2 linked regions of the Homo sapiens genome follow. The protein of the gene in region 1 interacts with the protein of each later gene in a biochemical or structural test. Each region holds a gene or a part of one and is shown on either strand. Other genes may lie near its edges.

Evidence for each region.
Region 2: the proteins of DRD2 (region 1) and PAWR form a complex in vitro, tested with the Homo sapiens proteins (one study listed by BioGRID).

Annotation. Positions count from the first base shown.
Region 1 is NC_000011.10:113,465,186-113,472,467, forward strand, and holds part of DRD2 (D(2) dopamine receptor), read right to left. Parts: intron 1-7,282. UniProt on the Homo sapiens protein: Dopamine receptor whose activity is mediated by G proteins which inhibit adenylyl cyclase. Positively regulates postnatal regression of retinal hyaloid vessels via suppression of VEGFR2/KDR activity, downstream of OPN5.
Region 2 is NC_000012.12:79,589,842-79,597,123, reverse strand, and holds part of PAWR (PRKC apoptosis WT1 regulator protein), read left to right. Parts: intron 1-465; coding exon 466-613; intron 614-2,690; coding exon 2,691-2,795; intron 2,796-4,430; coding exon 4,431-4,517; 3' UTR 4,518-7,282. UniProt on the Homo sapiens protein: Pro-apoptotic protein capable of selectively inducing apoptosis in cancer cells, sensitizing the cells to diverse apoptotic stimuli and causing regression of tumors in animal models.

The sequences.
Region 1 (7,282 bases):
TGCTTCCTGGGTTCAGGTAATTCCCGTGCCTCAGCCACCCCAGTAGCTGGGATTACAGGTGTGAGCCACCACATCCGGCTAAGTTTTGTAGTAGAGATGAGCTTTTGCCATGTTGGCCAGGCTAGTCTCAAACTCCTGGCCTCAAGTGATCTGCCTGTCTTGGCCTCCCAAAATGCTGGGATTACAGGCATGAGCCACCATGCCTGGCCAGTTTTTGTTGTTGTTGTTGTTTGTTTGTTTGTTTGTTTGTTTGTTTGTTTTACTGCAAATTGAATCACTGGAGTTGTCCCTGTGCTTAAAACCCAATCCTTCAAGTTGGCTTCTTTTTTCCCTCAGGATGGAATCCAGTCTCCTACATAAGACTTCAAGGTTCATAGTCAGGCCCCTGCCTAAGCCTTTGGCCTTACCTTGTACCATCTTCACTTCAAATCCCATTCATTAGCCACTGAGTTTCTTCAAAACTCCATGGTCTAACCTGAGCCAGGTGTGGAGGAAAAACCCTGGGCAGAAGTGAGTTCTAGTCCAGCTCTCCTACTTCTCTGCTGTGTAACATTGGGTTCTTTCAAGTATAACACTCTATGCCAATTCATACCTGGTCTAATGTCTTCATCTGCAATGGTGTCTTTCTTCCCTCCAGAAGAGAGAATATAAAATTTGGAGCACAGGTTGGGAAGGGTTCTGTGGACACTTCTCTGCCCACTGATAATTACGATAAGGATAATGATAGTGAATGTTTGCTGAGAGCTTACCATGCATCAGGTACTGAGACAAGCACTTTATGTGCGTGACTCATTTCCTTTGCACAAAACCCAATCAGGTAAGTATATAGTCATCCTGTTTTATGAAGGGATAAAGAACTGCATCTCAAAGGGGTGATAGTAACTTGATAGAGGTCACATAGCTCATGACCGATAGAACAAAGATCTGATCCTGCATTAGCCTGGTTTTTGAGTGCTCTGAACCACTTTGTTTAACTAAATAACTAGAGGGACAGGGGATGCATAGCCCACTTCTTAAAAGTGCTTTGTGGAAAGATAGGTTCAAACTGTTACTGCGTTTGGAGGGTCTTGGGTATAATCATGCTTATCTGTACCTTTTAAAGTAAGGACTAGTCCAATTCCCCAAAGTCTAAACACAGAAATCACCAAAGCACTAATGGCATCCCTCAATAACAGCTCTTTTGTCTTCAGGTCCCCAGGCTGACCTGAACAAACACACCTGTGTATGTTTCCTCAACAGCCCCCCCAGTGCATTTTCTCCATGAGTGTGTCTGATTGAAGTAGGTTCCAACCATTCAATATTCCCCAACTTCCATGCCCTGTGACAACTGCGAAAAATTTCCATCCAACCTATAATGTCTTCATGGCTGAGGGTGGCCAGATAGTGCAGGTTAGGGATGAAAGAGAGAAGGCATGAAGTATGTTGCTGACCTATGAGATACCTCTAGTGGGGGATGCCTCAGACACTGCCACTCTTGTTAAGCTGCAAGTAAAGTAGAGGGAGAGTGTCGCTATGGGGAAGTAAGCTGTCTCTCACCTACCCATCACTTATCCACTCACCCACTCTCACTCAACAATTTAAGTAACTACCAAGTGCCTAGCACCATTTTAGGTTATAATAGATTTTAGAGAAGCATGAGACAAATTCTCTGCTTCAAGGAGCTCATGGTCTGGTGGAGAAGACAAGAAATGCACAATTGAGAGATTAGCATTAAGCATTAAGTTGGCTCCTCACAGAAGACAGGCCACAAGGGAGATTTTGTGTCATTAGTCACAATGTGACTCTAGAGTGATCCCAGACCTTCAACTACACATACTACTAAAGAAAAATAGTGTGTGGAAACATGGATCCACCGTGGTGCGGGGGCAGGCGGTGGGAGGCGGTGCTGACATCCTCTGCCTGGGACCCTGGAAGTTAGTTTCTGCTTGTCAACACATGTCTCTTATTGACCCTGCCATAAATGAGTGAAAGAGTTGAAAGGGCTGAGTCCAAAAAAGGATGAACCAAGGAAGATGACCCAGGAACAGAATACCTACAGTGCCTTCTGAAATATTCTACCATAGCTAAATGGTGAGCATTTGTAGCTGGCCAGAAATAGATGCACATCAATTACAAGAGAGTCCTCCCCAAGAAGGGATTCATAGACCAAGAAAAAGGCCAACAAGAGGGATTATCTTTATGCACTGGGGAATCTCAGGACCAGAAGCTACTGTTTCCATCCTCCTTTCTCAGGCAGGACCATACTTCACCTAAAAACATGATAGCATTTGCTCCTGCCAAGAATGACTCCAGAAGCTGCAGAACACATATTTCTGCCAGCTTTGGGGGTCTGCTCATGTGAAGTTCTTTGGCCCTTTCAATCTGGGAAAAGAAAAAAAGTCACCTTGTCCTTGTACACCAGTACATTCTCCTTGTTTTTTGTTTTTAATAAAAACTGGCCTGTGCCAGAGCAACATACCATGTGACACTGCCAATCAGGGAGGCTCCAACCATGAGGTAGCAGACACAGAGCCCAGGAAACCAGGAAGAAAAATTAGGCCATGAAAAGCTATCACCAGGATAACTTATGCCTCTTCCTAGCTCATGTGGTGTAAGATGGAAATGAATTCAGCTGCACCTAAATCAAAGGGATGACAAGCAATTCAAACCCCTATCTCGCTCAAAATGAGCAAGAGCTGCTGACAGGTGAAAGCCAAAGAATTTTGGTGCAGATAAGTGGAGAGTGTAAGAAAGAAGTATATCCTTGAATTTTGTGAACGTTTTAGAAACATGATTTCAGAAATGTAAAATCAGGTGCTGAATTACTGCAAAAGGACAACAGCTCAAAGTGTTGTTTCTTACTTAAGCATCTTAATAATAACAATAACAATCATTACAGTTAACATTTAAAGAGTACTCACTTTTCCCAGGGACTCTTTCAAATGTCTTGTCTCTATTACCTTAATTAATTACTGTGACCCAATTATGTTGGTATTAACATCCACTTACAGGTGAGAACCCCCAGGTGATAGAGGTTAATTAACTTGCTCATGGTCACATAGCTAGTAAGTGTTAGAGTCAGGATTCAAATCCTGGAAGTCTAATTCCAGAGCCCACAGGTTTAACTACCATATGGTGTTGTTTTTAAAGGGTTTAAATAGGTGACTAAATATTGATATATGTCATTCATAAAACTCATGGTGAGGCTCAACAACAGAGGAGTCTTCTCACTTATTATGAGGTGAACACGATTATTACAGTCCCTTATTTGTGCCTGAAATAACTGATGAGCAGGTTAAGTGCCCTGCCCAGGGACATCCAGGCCTCACCTGCCTCTGTCTATCAGAAAAGCATTGATCAGGGTTTTTTTTGTTTTTTGTTTGTTTGTTTGTTTGTTTTTTGAGATGGAGTCTCGTTCTGCCACCCAGGTTGGAGTGCAGTGGCACGATACTGGCTCACTGCAACCTCTACCTCCCAGGTTCAAGCAATTTTCCTGCCTCAGCCTCCTGAGTAGCTGAGACCACAGGTGCATGCTGCCAGATCCTAATTTTTTTGTGTGTTTTAGTAGAGATGGGGTTTCACTGTGTTGCCCAGGCTGGTTGTGAACTCCTGAGTTCAAGCAATCTGCCCACCTCAGCCTCCCAAAGGGATGGGATTACAGGCGTGAGCCACCGCGTCTGGCTAATCAGCTCATTTTTTAAAGGCAGCTCTCATGAGTCACTCCTGTGTCTGTCCAGGATCCCAGGCCATCCCGCCCTCACATTTCTGTAAAATGTGGAAGCTTAGTCTTGGAGATATAACAAGTTTTCCTTCTATGGTAATAAGAAAGCAAACCCAAAGACCTAATTGTTGGCAGAAGTCTGGCTTTCATCCTTTGGACAGTTCAGTTCACCTCAAAGAGATGTGGGACAGAAGGTAATGTCATCACAGTTCCAGAAGAGCTTGACAAAACATCCGTCTACACCTCCTCCCAGCTCCTCCCCCAGGTTGGAAGGCTTAGTTGACCCTGCCTCCCTCCTGCTCCTGCCGCCCTCCCTCCTGCTCCCACTGCTTGCTGAGGTTTACGCCCAGTGCATTTCATCCAAAGGGACCCAGATCCAGGTACAGAACACTTCCTCGCTGGTTCTCAAATTTAAGAATCCCAAGGAGTTATTTTATTCATCCTTCTCCATCTGCTGTCTCCCTCTTCACTTTCCTGGTATCATACACAAAGATTACTGCCCTTTCATTCACTAAAGAATTATCTTCTTATCCCTATTCTCCTCCTTTTCTTGTTCTTTATGCCACTTACGTATCAGAGAGGGCTATTGCTTTAGCCTTAAACAGTCTGGTTTTGAATCTTTGTCTCACACATGAAACGTGTGACCTTGTGCAAACCACTTACCTTTCTAAGCCTATGCTTCTTCCTCTGCAAAATGGAATAATAAGGGTTACTCTGAGGCAGGAGGATCGTTTGAAGCCAGGAGTTCAAGACCAGACTGGACAACAAAGCAAGGCCCTATATCTACAAAAAATTCTTTAAAAAATTAGTTGGGCATGCTGGCATGCACCTGTACTCCCAGCTGCTCGGGTGGCTGAAGCAGGAGGATCACTTGAGCCCAGGAGTTCAAGGCTGCTGTGAGCTATGATTGCACCACTGCACTCCAGCCTGGGTGACAGAGCAAGACCTCTCTCTAAAAATGAAAATAATAAATAAATAAATAAATAATAAACAAACAAAAAATGTAAAAACAAGGGTTCCTATTTCACAGAGTTGTTGCAGGATTGGGAGTTTAAATGAAGAACCTATGTCAAGTGCTGAGCACAGCGCCCTGCACACAGTAAGTGCACAATAAATGCTGGCCGTTATGATGATGAGGCCAGCAAAGGAGGGTCTGGTGAACAGGACCACTTCTCATTCTAGGGAAGCCTGGTACTAAGCCACTTTCCCATATCAAGAGTTCCTGGGAGTTGCTAGTGATGGTGCTGCCTGGGGTAGCAGGTAGGAGAGGAGGCAATGATGTAGCATGTAACAAAAATAATTTCATTTCTAATGTCTTTCTCCTGCTGGGCCACTTAGAACCCAAACAATAACAACAAGGAGGGGGTGGAAATGAGAAGGGCAGGCACGTTCTGAAGGAGACCAATAACAAATGAACAGGCGCCAGGACTCCCTTTGGCTCCCAGACATCTGCAGGGGATTATCGTTGGGGCCACAGCTGCAGTTCTGTGCTGAGCGACAGCTTCCTGGAAGGCAGGACTGCCCAGGCTAACTGCAGGCCTATTGATGGAGCTCCTGGGAGCCAGGTCTGCCTGACTTCCCTTACCGCCCTCTGTCTGGAAGCAAGCTGACATTACCCAGAGGGCTGCAGGGGAAACCAGAGGTTTTCCCTCCTTCCCCTCCCTGTCCCTTCAGACAGCAAAGAATTCCCTCATCTCCTACTGGAAAAAGTAAAAATCCTTACAGGTGACATCAGATTATGACAAAATTGCCCAAACTACACTAAGCTGATACCTATATTCAATGCATATTTAACATCAGCCTCTTTCAGGGCCTCCTAAGAGTCTACTTCTCCTCTGCTCTCACCTCTGTACACTGTCCCATACTCTCCCAAATGCCCCTAGGAGTTTCCAGGCTTCTGAGTTCAAAGCACTGCAGCAGCACAGTTTCTTCTATCCAGGGGAAGAGGGAGGCCTCAGACCCCAGTGTGTCATCTCTGACTCCTCCCTATACACTAGAGCCACCAGGGTCCTTGGCCCCTCTGCAGTGAAACACTCTCATGTATCCTAGGGAGAGAAGAGGCTGTGCCTTCCAAGGGCATCCCAGCTGCCAAGGGTATTGATTTAACCCATTTACCAGATTAAGGTGAAAGGAAAAAGAAAAGAAAAATCTGCAATTCTGAGGGCAAATTTCTCTCCTTTCTCTGGACCCAAATCAAAGAAAACCAAGTGGCTGAGTCTTATAGTTTTATTACTCCTCCATCCCCATGTGCTGACACTATAATCAAGCTATTTTCCAGGCCTGTACATTTAGATAATATGATTCTATTGTCAAAAAATAAGAAAGTTTTGCATCCATTTAAGTACAGAGGAAAGAAATCTCCAATTACATTGGTCATGGGAACAGGTGAGAGGCAAAAGTATATTAATATTAGATTCCAACACCATTAGAGTAATTTAAAAGGCCAGAGATAACATTAGTCTACTGCTCAAATTGGTAAATAAGCAATTTGTGCATCCTTAGTGGCTCCATGGTATATTCTGGAGAGCAGAAGGGCTTATACCTAATCCCAAGGTCCTTCCAAGGCCACAAAATGCCTTACTGGAGGTGAGAAGAGGGAAAATGGTGCTGGGGTTCAGCTAAGTAAGAGGCTACCTACAAAGGAGGGTGCCTGCTGAGAAGTTGAATCAACCTGTGTCCTTTCTGCTGCCCATGGTTTCCGAGTGTTTCCTATATGCAGGATGCTCCTCTGCTAAGCAGAGTACCTGGTAGGATGGAGAAGCTCCAGTTGCTGAGTCCAGTCCTGGTGTTCAGAAACTGGAAAATTCATTGGAAAAAGTTCTGTTTAGGAGAACTTTAATAAAAGAAGAAAGACCATTGTATTTCTGGACTAAGGAAACAGCTTCCCTGTTTGGAGTCAGGGGCATCTGGCATGACCTCTGAGGAGCCCAAGAAGATAACCTAAGAATCTAAAGTCCTATAAACTATATCCCAGGAAAATGCAAATGACTGGGCTGCTGTTCTAAGCTATTTTCAAGACCTCAACTCTTAGGTAACTGTAGCCTGCTGATATATAACTTGATTCTGGGAGATATTACAAATATGACTTAGGGTTCTGGCATTATAAAACCTCAACTTGATTCTTCTCTCTTCCTAGGTGTTGAGGCACCTTCACTGTTGGAGATTCATAGGTATTAAGCCACAAAGCGGGGAGAAGTGGTGGGTGCCAACACAGGATTGGCTCAAGGAAGTCTCATCATATCTGTCTCTCCTGGGCGATGTGCTCATATGTGTGCATGCACGTGTATGCAAACACACACAAACACATACACATACACACAGTGCTATCTTCACAGCCACACTTTTTTGTTAACACTAAAATGTAACTTTTACTTGCAGGGGAGATGGAAACCATTCTCTCCAGGCAGAGTCCCCACGTCTTTCCCCTTATACTTGTTTATTCAGAGAATGGTGACCCCAGACCAGTCCGGCTTCAGCAAGACAATCTCAGGAGTATGTGAGGCCATATTTCTAATGACCCTAAGTTCCCATTTGTTTCCCATAGTATCAAAGAAAGAACAGAAGCGTTTGTCTCAATTTCAG
Region 2 (7,282 bases), on another chromosome or scaffold:
TTGCACCACTGCACTCCAGTCTGGGTGACAAGAGTGAGACCCCATCTCAAAAAAAAAAAAAAAAAAGATAATCTGGGAGATCTGTCCTATCGTAGTTCTCATAGTATCCATCACTGACCTTATTTTACTGATCATCTTGCTTTATTATTAGTTATATTCCCTTTTAACCAAAAGCTCTATGAAGGGCAGAGTCCATGTTTGTGTTTGCTGTTACGTCTTCAGTATCCAGAACAGTGTTCGTTACTTAACACCTATTCAGTAGATATTGGTCGAAAGAATTAATGGTACTTTTACATTTTTTTCATTGTGTGGGAATAATGATTAACTTCTACAGTTACAAATAAGTTGCTACTATAACCATATGTCCTTGGGGAATGTTAATTTTTTTAAGCTCAATAGAAAATATTCTTGGCATTTTTCTTGCTGAATACTAGGGATTTTAATAAAATGTTTATATTTCCACAGCACAACCAGTGTCTCTGAAGAAGATGTCTCAAGTAGATATTCTCGAACAGATAGAAGTGGGTTCCCTAGATATAACAGGGATGCAAATGTTTCAGGTACTCTGGTTTCAAGTAGCACACTGGAAAAGAAAATTGAAGATCTTGAAAAGGTATGGATTATAAGTTATTTAAGATTGATAAAATTAATATACCATTAGAATTCTTTTGTTTCATAGCAACTGAGTGAGAAAGGAAATAATATTCCTTAATATTTAATATGTGCGCTTTTCTGCCAACTGTTACCTTTAGTATATTAAAAGCCCTTGTTTTTGAAGTGGTTAGAAGTCTGAGCTGGCAAATATATACTACTGTGTATTTATTATATTGTCTGAATAGATTTTCATTTGTAACTTTACAAATTACAGGAGTAAATCTGAGTTAGGTCCATCTTTGGTGTTTGAAACAATTTTGTCTAAGAATATGCCTGTTTAAAAGTGTCTTTCAGTGCAAGTCAGATGACTCTTGGCATAAATTTATTAACCATAGGGTCTCAGGTTTGTGCCATAGACATTCAACCCCTAAAATTAGCAATGGTGTTGAATACTTTTGTAATTGTTGAAAATGTGTTTTGTTTTACTTGAGATTATTCTCTATATTATTAAAGATCTAATTTATATATGTTATGTAAAGAAATTTCATTTTTAAAACTTGTTTCTATTTTATAACATTTATGATTTTTTGAGGTCACATTTCTAAGCTTTAACAACAGTTTCTTCTTGGAATTATTATTTCATAGTTTTATTTATTTTTATTTATTTATTTAGTTTTGAGACAGAGTTTCGCTCTTGTTGCCTAAGCTGGAGTACAATGGCTCAGTATCGGCTCACTGCAACCTCCACTTCCCAGGTTCAAGTGTTTCTTCTGCCTCAGCCTTCCAAGTAACTGGGATTACAGGCATGCACCACCAAGCCCGGCTAATTCTTTTTTTGTATTTTTAGTAGAGAAGGGGTTTCACCATGTTGGTCAGGCTGGTCTTGAATTCCTAACCTCAGGTGATCCACCCGCCTCGGCTTCCTAAAGTGCTGGAATTACAGGCGTGAGCCACTGTGCCCAGCCTATTATTTCATAATTTTAAATTAAAAAGTTTAGACAATATGTAATCTAATAGTTTTGAAGATAGTTGCCCAGAAAGGCTTCGTGAGTTCCACAAGAGTTTGGATTGAATTGCTAGTAGTTGGCAGCAGCTAAGGGATATGGATGGTTGATTGCTCTGTAGGAGGTTTAGTAAGAAAGAAGCCAAGTTCTGGGCAAGGCCTTTTGAGCTCTGCTTCCCTTTTGCCCCCAAGGTGGCTGACCAAGCCCAGTGCCCTGGATTCTAAATAAGATGTCTTTGAAAAAGATGTTGCATTGTTTAAAGAAAAAAAAAATTAAAAATCAGTAATCTATTTTAGTTCCTTCTTTTTATCCATTATCAGTTAACTGGCAGAGCCAGAAGTAAAACTGAGGACCATTGTTTTTCTGTTTAGAGTTTCTATTGGGCCATCTCCTTTAAACTTTGTATTTTTAAGAAAAATTAATTTTGAATTATTTCAAACAAGATACCCATTAAAAAATAAGGTAGTTCATAACTTATAGTGGTGATAAGCTAAATAAGTTAAATCACAGGCCGGGCACAGTGGCTCACGCTTGTAATCCCAGCACTTTGGTAGGCTGAGGCGGGCAGATCACTTGAGGTCAGGAGTTCGAGACCAGCCTGGGCAACATGGCAAAGCCCCATCTGTACTAAAAATATGAAAATTACCCAGGCATGGTGGCATGCACCTGTAATTCCAGCTACTTGGGAGGCTGAGGCAGGAGAATCGCTTGAACCCAGGAGGTGGAGGTTGCAGTGAGCCAAGGTGCCATTGCACTCCAGCCTGGGTGACAAGAGTGAAACACTGCCATACATACATACACACACACACACACACACACACACACGAGGTTAAATCATTGAGTCTATTACATTAGTTTTGTTAAAGACTTGTATAAACATAGCTTTACTCAGGAGCATCCTAATATCTCCTGTGCATTCTCTGATTCCTTTTGTGGTGGGATCTTTGTTCCTTCACCAAATGTCTTAAGGGATTCATTGGAAATCTTCATGTATGTAAGATATTTTACCAAATTGGGGAGATATATGCCACTTAGGAAGATTATAAATAAACAATTACTTCCTAATTACTGGTTTTTAATTGTATCTACCAGGAAGTAGTAAGAGAAAGACAAGAAAACCTAAGACTTGTGAGACTGATGCAAGATAAAGAGGAAATGATTGGAAAACTCAAAGAAGAAATTGATTTATTAAATAGAGTAAGTATTTCACCATATTTCAGGTTTGGAGGGGTTTTTTTTGGCAATTGGATGAAAATATATAAATATGAAGAAATTATTAATTGCATTATTCACTTTGTTCTTTTGTTAGTGAAATAATAATTAGTAAGAGGTATCATTTTCTTCCAAAAACTGATTTCCTTTGGGCAGTTATCAGTTTAGCTCACTTAATTTTATTCTTTTGGAGATAGACTGATTTATGGATTTGTTCTCTGTTTTGTTAAAATCTGAGGGTGACAGGCGCTTTGTCACTACCATATGTAAGGGCACTGGCACAGAGTTGCCTCAAGAAATATCTAAAATTGGCCAGGCGCTGTGGCTCACACCTGTAATCTCAGCACTTTGGGAGGCCGAGGAGGGCGGATCACGTGAAGTCAGGAGTTCGAGACCAGCCTGGCCAACATGGTAAAACCCCGACTCTACTAAAAATATGAAAAATTAGCTGGGCATGGTGGTGGGCACCTGTAATCTCAGCTACTCAGAAGGTTGAGGCAGGAGAATTGCTTGATCCCAGGAGGCGGAGGTTGCAGTGAGCCAAGATTGCGCTGCTGCACTCCAGCCTGGGCAGCAAGAGTAAGACTCTGTCTCAAAAAAAAAAAAAAAAAACCCTAAAATTGGTACTCTTTATTATTATTATTATTATTTTTTGAGAAGGAGTCTCTCTCTGTTGCCCAGGCTGGAGTTCAGTGGCGCGATCTCAGCTCACTGCAACCTCCACCCCCCGGGTTCAAGTGATTCAAATTGATTACATCAAGATTTATTATTTTAAACTGCAAGAATAAATCTATAAATGTCTGCTTTTTTAACAGTAAAGAGTCTGTCTTGAAATAATGTTTCTTGTAACTAAAACTTATGGTGAATTTGTTTTAACCAGATGGTTGTGTGTTTGGGACAAGGATTAATACAGGGAAAAAAGAGCTGGATCATATGCTTTTAAAGCTGGAGAGCGAATACTTAATTTAGTGGCTTTGAATTAATTTTAGCTCTAAAACCTTTCCTTCAAAATGTCGTAGAAAAGTCCAACATACAAATTGATCTGGAGCTGAAAACAAAATTGATCCAGATCAAGATACTCCAGATCCCCTTTTCCGTAGGCCTCAGTTTTGTCACCTCTCCAGAGTGTTATCCCCATTGTACACCTTTAAAGATCAGACAGTGGTAGGAGTGCATCTAGAACTTGTACCTGCACCTTTTGATGACTAATTTGACACAAGGTTGCAACCTAGGGCTCAATACCATATATGGCTTGCATGGGTAGTTTTTTTTTTTGCCTCAGTTTTAGGGAGGGGAAGTGGAGTTTGTTTAGCTAAAAAACTAACTTATTTATGATGATTGAAAATTGGAAGATTCACAATTTTAAAATTCTGACTTTCGGCTTCCTTTGAAAAACTGAAAGATCTGTAAGAGTTGGCCTATACACTTGTTGTAAGAACGAAGAGTCAAGTAATGGATGCTCTTTTTTGGTGGGGCATATTACATCTAAAGTTGTTTTCAGAGCTTGCCCTCATTTCAAAATTAATTGGTTGTATGAATTATTTTTAATGTGTATTAAGTGTTTTCATCTCTCCTCAAATATTTTTAAGTATTTTTAAAGTGTCTTTTTTTTTTCTTAAGGACCTAGATGACATAGAAGATGAAAATGAACAGCTAAAGCAGGAAAATAAAACTCTTTTGAAAGTTGTGGGTCAGCTGACCAGGTAGAGGATTCAAGACTCAATGTGGAAAAAATATTTTAAACTACTGATTGAATGTTAATGGTCAATGCTAGCACAATATTCCTATGCTGCAATACATTAAAATAACTAAGCAAGTATATTTATTTCTAGCAAACAGATGTTTGTTTTCAAAATACTTCTTTTTCATTATTGGTTTTAAAAAAGCATTATCCTTTTATCTCACAAATAAGTAATATCTTTCAGTTATTAAATGATAGATAATGCCTTTTTGGTTTTGTGTGGTATTCAACTAATACATGGTTTAAAGTCACAGCCGTTTGAATATATTTTATCTTGGTAGTACATTTTCTCCCTTAGGAATATACATAGTCTTTGTTTACATGAGTTCAAATACTTTTGGGATGTTACCTTCACATGTCCTATTACTGATGTGTGCAACCTTTTATGTGTTGATGACTCACTCATAAAGGTTTTTGTCTACTGTCATTTGTTCTTTCCACTTATTCTAAGCATTTAGAGTAATAGAGTCATACTTTTTTATAACAGCAACCTTTTAAAAGGAAAGCTCTTATAAAGTCACTGTCATGTTTTAGTTGACTAAATATAAATTTAAGAGAATACTTGAATTGTGCTATAGTAAATAAAAATTTACTATTTTGTGTTTGAATATTGAAAAATTGAATCACTTTAACTCCTGAAAAACATACAATTGTAATTTCAATGTAAAATTTCTTATGTAGGTACTACCTTTTTTTATCGTTCCAAGGTTTGCTAGTGAACACAGGATATTTTAAAAGTTTTTTATTCTTCGGGCCTGGAAAGTGTACAAAGTCAGTGTAGGAGAAAAAAATCCATATTTTTATATTAGCATGCACACTAAAAACCAAAATATTATTCATACTTAAAACATTCATACAAAACAATATGTAAGCAGAAATAGTACTAAAATACTTTGCCTAATTTCTAAGTTGAAGAATAACACTGGGACACAGTTTTTTCATATGAGAGAATATTCCGCTATTTCAAATTTAAGGGATTTTCTTCCTAACATTGAAATTTTAAAAACAGAGTTACTTCTAAATAATTATACAGATTTTTTCTTCTATTAAATATTATTATTTAGAATTGTTTTTGTATTACATATTCATGTTAAGAACCCCGTCTTCCCTTAAAATACATTAAAATTATGACATTTTTGCTTTGTGATTGAATTTCAAATAGCAGTATGGTATCCTTTTATCTAGTTAATATATGAAAGTGGCTTGAATATAGTCAAATCCATTTTAGGTACTCTACTGACTTTTTCCTTCACTTGCCAAGCCCTTTTATTGTTCACTGTTAGAAAAATAGAGAAGGTGAGACAGCTGGGGGAAAATGTGGAGTAAATGATAATCAAATGTTGAATTCTAAAAGTCTCTACATTTACCTAGGTTGGCTTTCTCCCCCAGTTCAGAAGTTTCCAGCTTGGCCAATCATCAGAATCACTTGAGGAACTTAGAAAGAACTCCCTGGCTGTAGCTCCTATGTAGGTTTAGGTTGAGACTCTGGATTCCACAATTTTTAAAGGTTACCATCTGAGGTTTCTGATCATAGTCTACTTTTGAAGCAGCTGCTGCTGTTTCTTTATTCCATTGAACACCCTGGAATTGACATAATTTTATCTATCAGCATTTCTCCCCTTTTAGTTTATTTAATAATTAACCCGGTCTCCAGGGCAGTTTTCATATGACCATGTGTATATTCACTGCTCACGAAAAAGTTTAATGTTAGATTACCAAATTTAATATAGTTACAGAATTACTGCATAAGGGCTTCCCTTCTTGGAGACTCTTACCCAGCATGGGAACAGTGATCTGCCCACATGACAGGGTGGTATGCCAGGCATAGTTAACTGCTTTTGGTTGTGAGGTACTCATCTTCCTTTAGTTACCCTTAGTTATGTGGCACACATGTCCTTATTGCCTAGTTCGTCATCCACACTTTGGATCTTGTGAAAATGCTGTTAGTATCCAACCTTAAAATATATTAGTATATGGGTTTTTATTAAAAGAATTACTTTGAATTTTCTATTTAATTCATATGTAAATAAAGGAACATTTCATTTCACTTAAAAAAATTATATCAGTTATTAGGCTGGGTGCAGTGGCTCATGCCTGTAATCCCAGCACTTTGGGAGGCCAAGGCGGGTGGATTACCAGAGTTCGGGAGTTTGAGACCAGCTTGACCAACATGGAGAAACCCCGTCTCTACTAAAAATACAAAATTAGCCAGGTGTGGTGGCGCATGCCTGTAATCCTGGCTACTCAGGAGGCTGAGGCAGGAGAATCGCTTGAAAACCCAGGAGACAGAGGTTGCGGTGAGCTGAGATTGCGCCATTGTACTCCAGCCTGGGCAAGAAGAGCGAAACTCTGTCTCCAAAAAAAAAAAAAAAAAAATTATTAATACTTTTAAAGACTGAGCTGTTTAAGAATTTTTTGGGGAACATTTCTAGCAGTGATTTTTTTGGCCTTTAATGATAGCGTAAAGACAGGAGCCTTACAACTTAGGCAAAGCATTTCACATGCAGTCCTTCTTCCATCTCAAAATATGTACTTATTTTACATACAGAATTTTACACTAACCATTGAAAAATAAAGTAGGATCTGCTACAGTTTCACCTGAAAATTTATAAAAAGTGTTGAGATTGGTAGAAGGTAGTTTTTAAGTACATGTGCACTACCCTAAAAGACTTGTCTATTGTCAATAAAGTGTTAGTATTTGTGAAATTATTATTCCTGTTCAGAAATACTA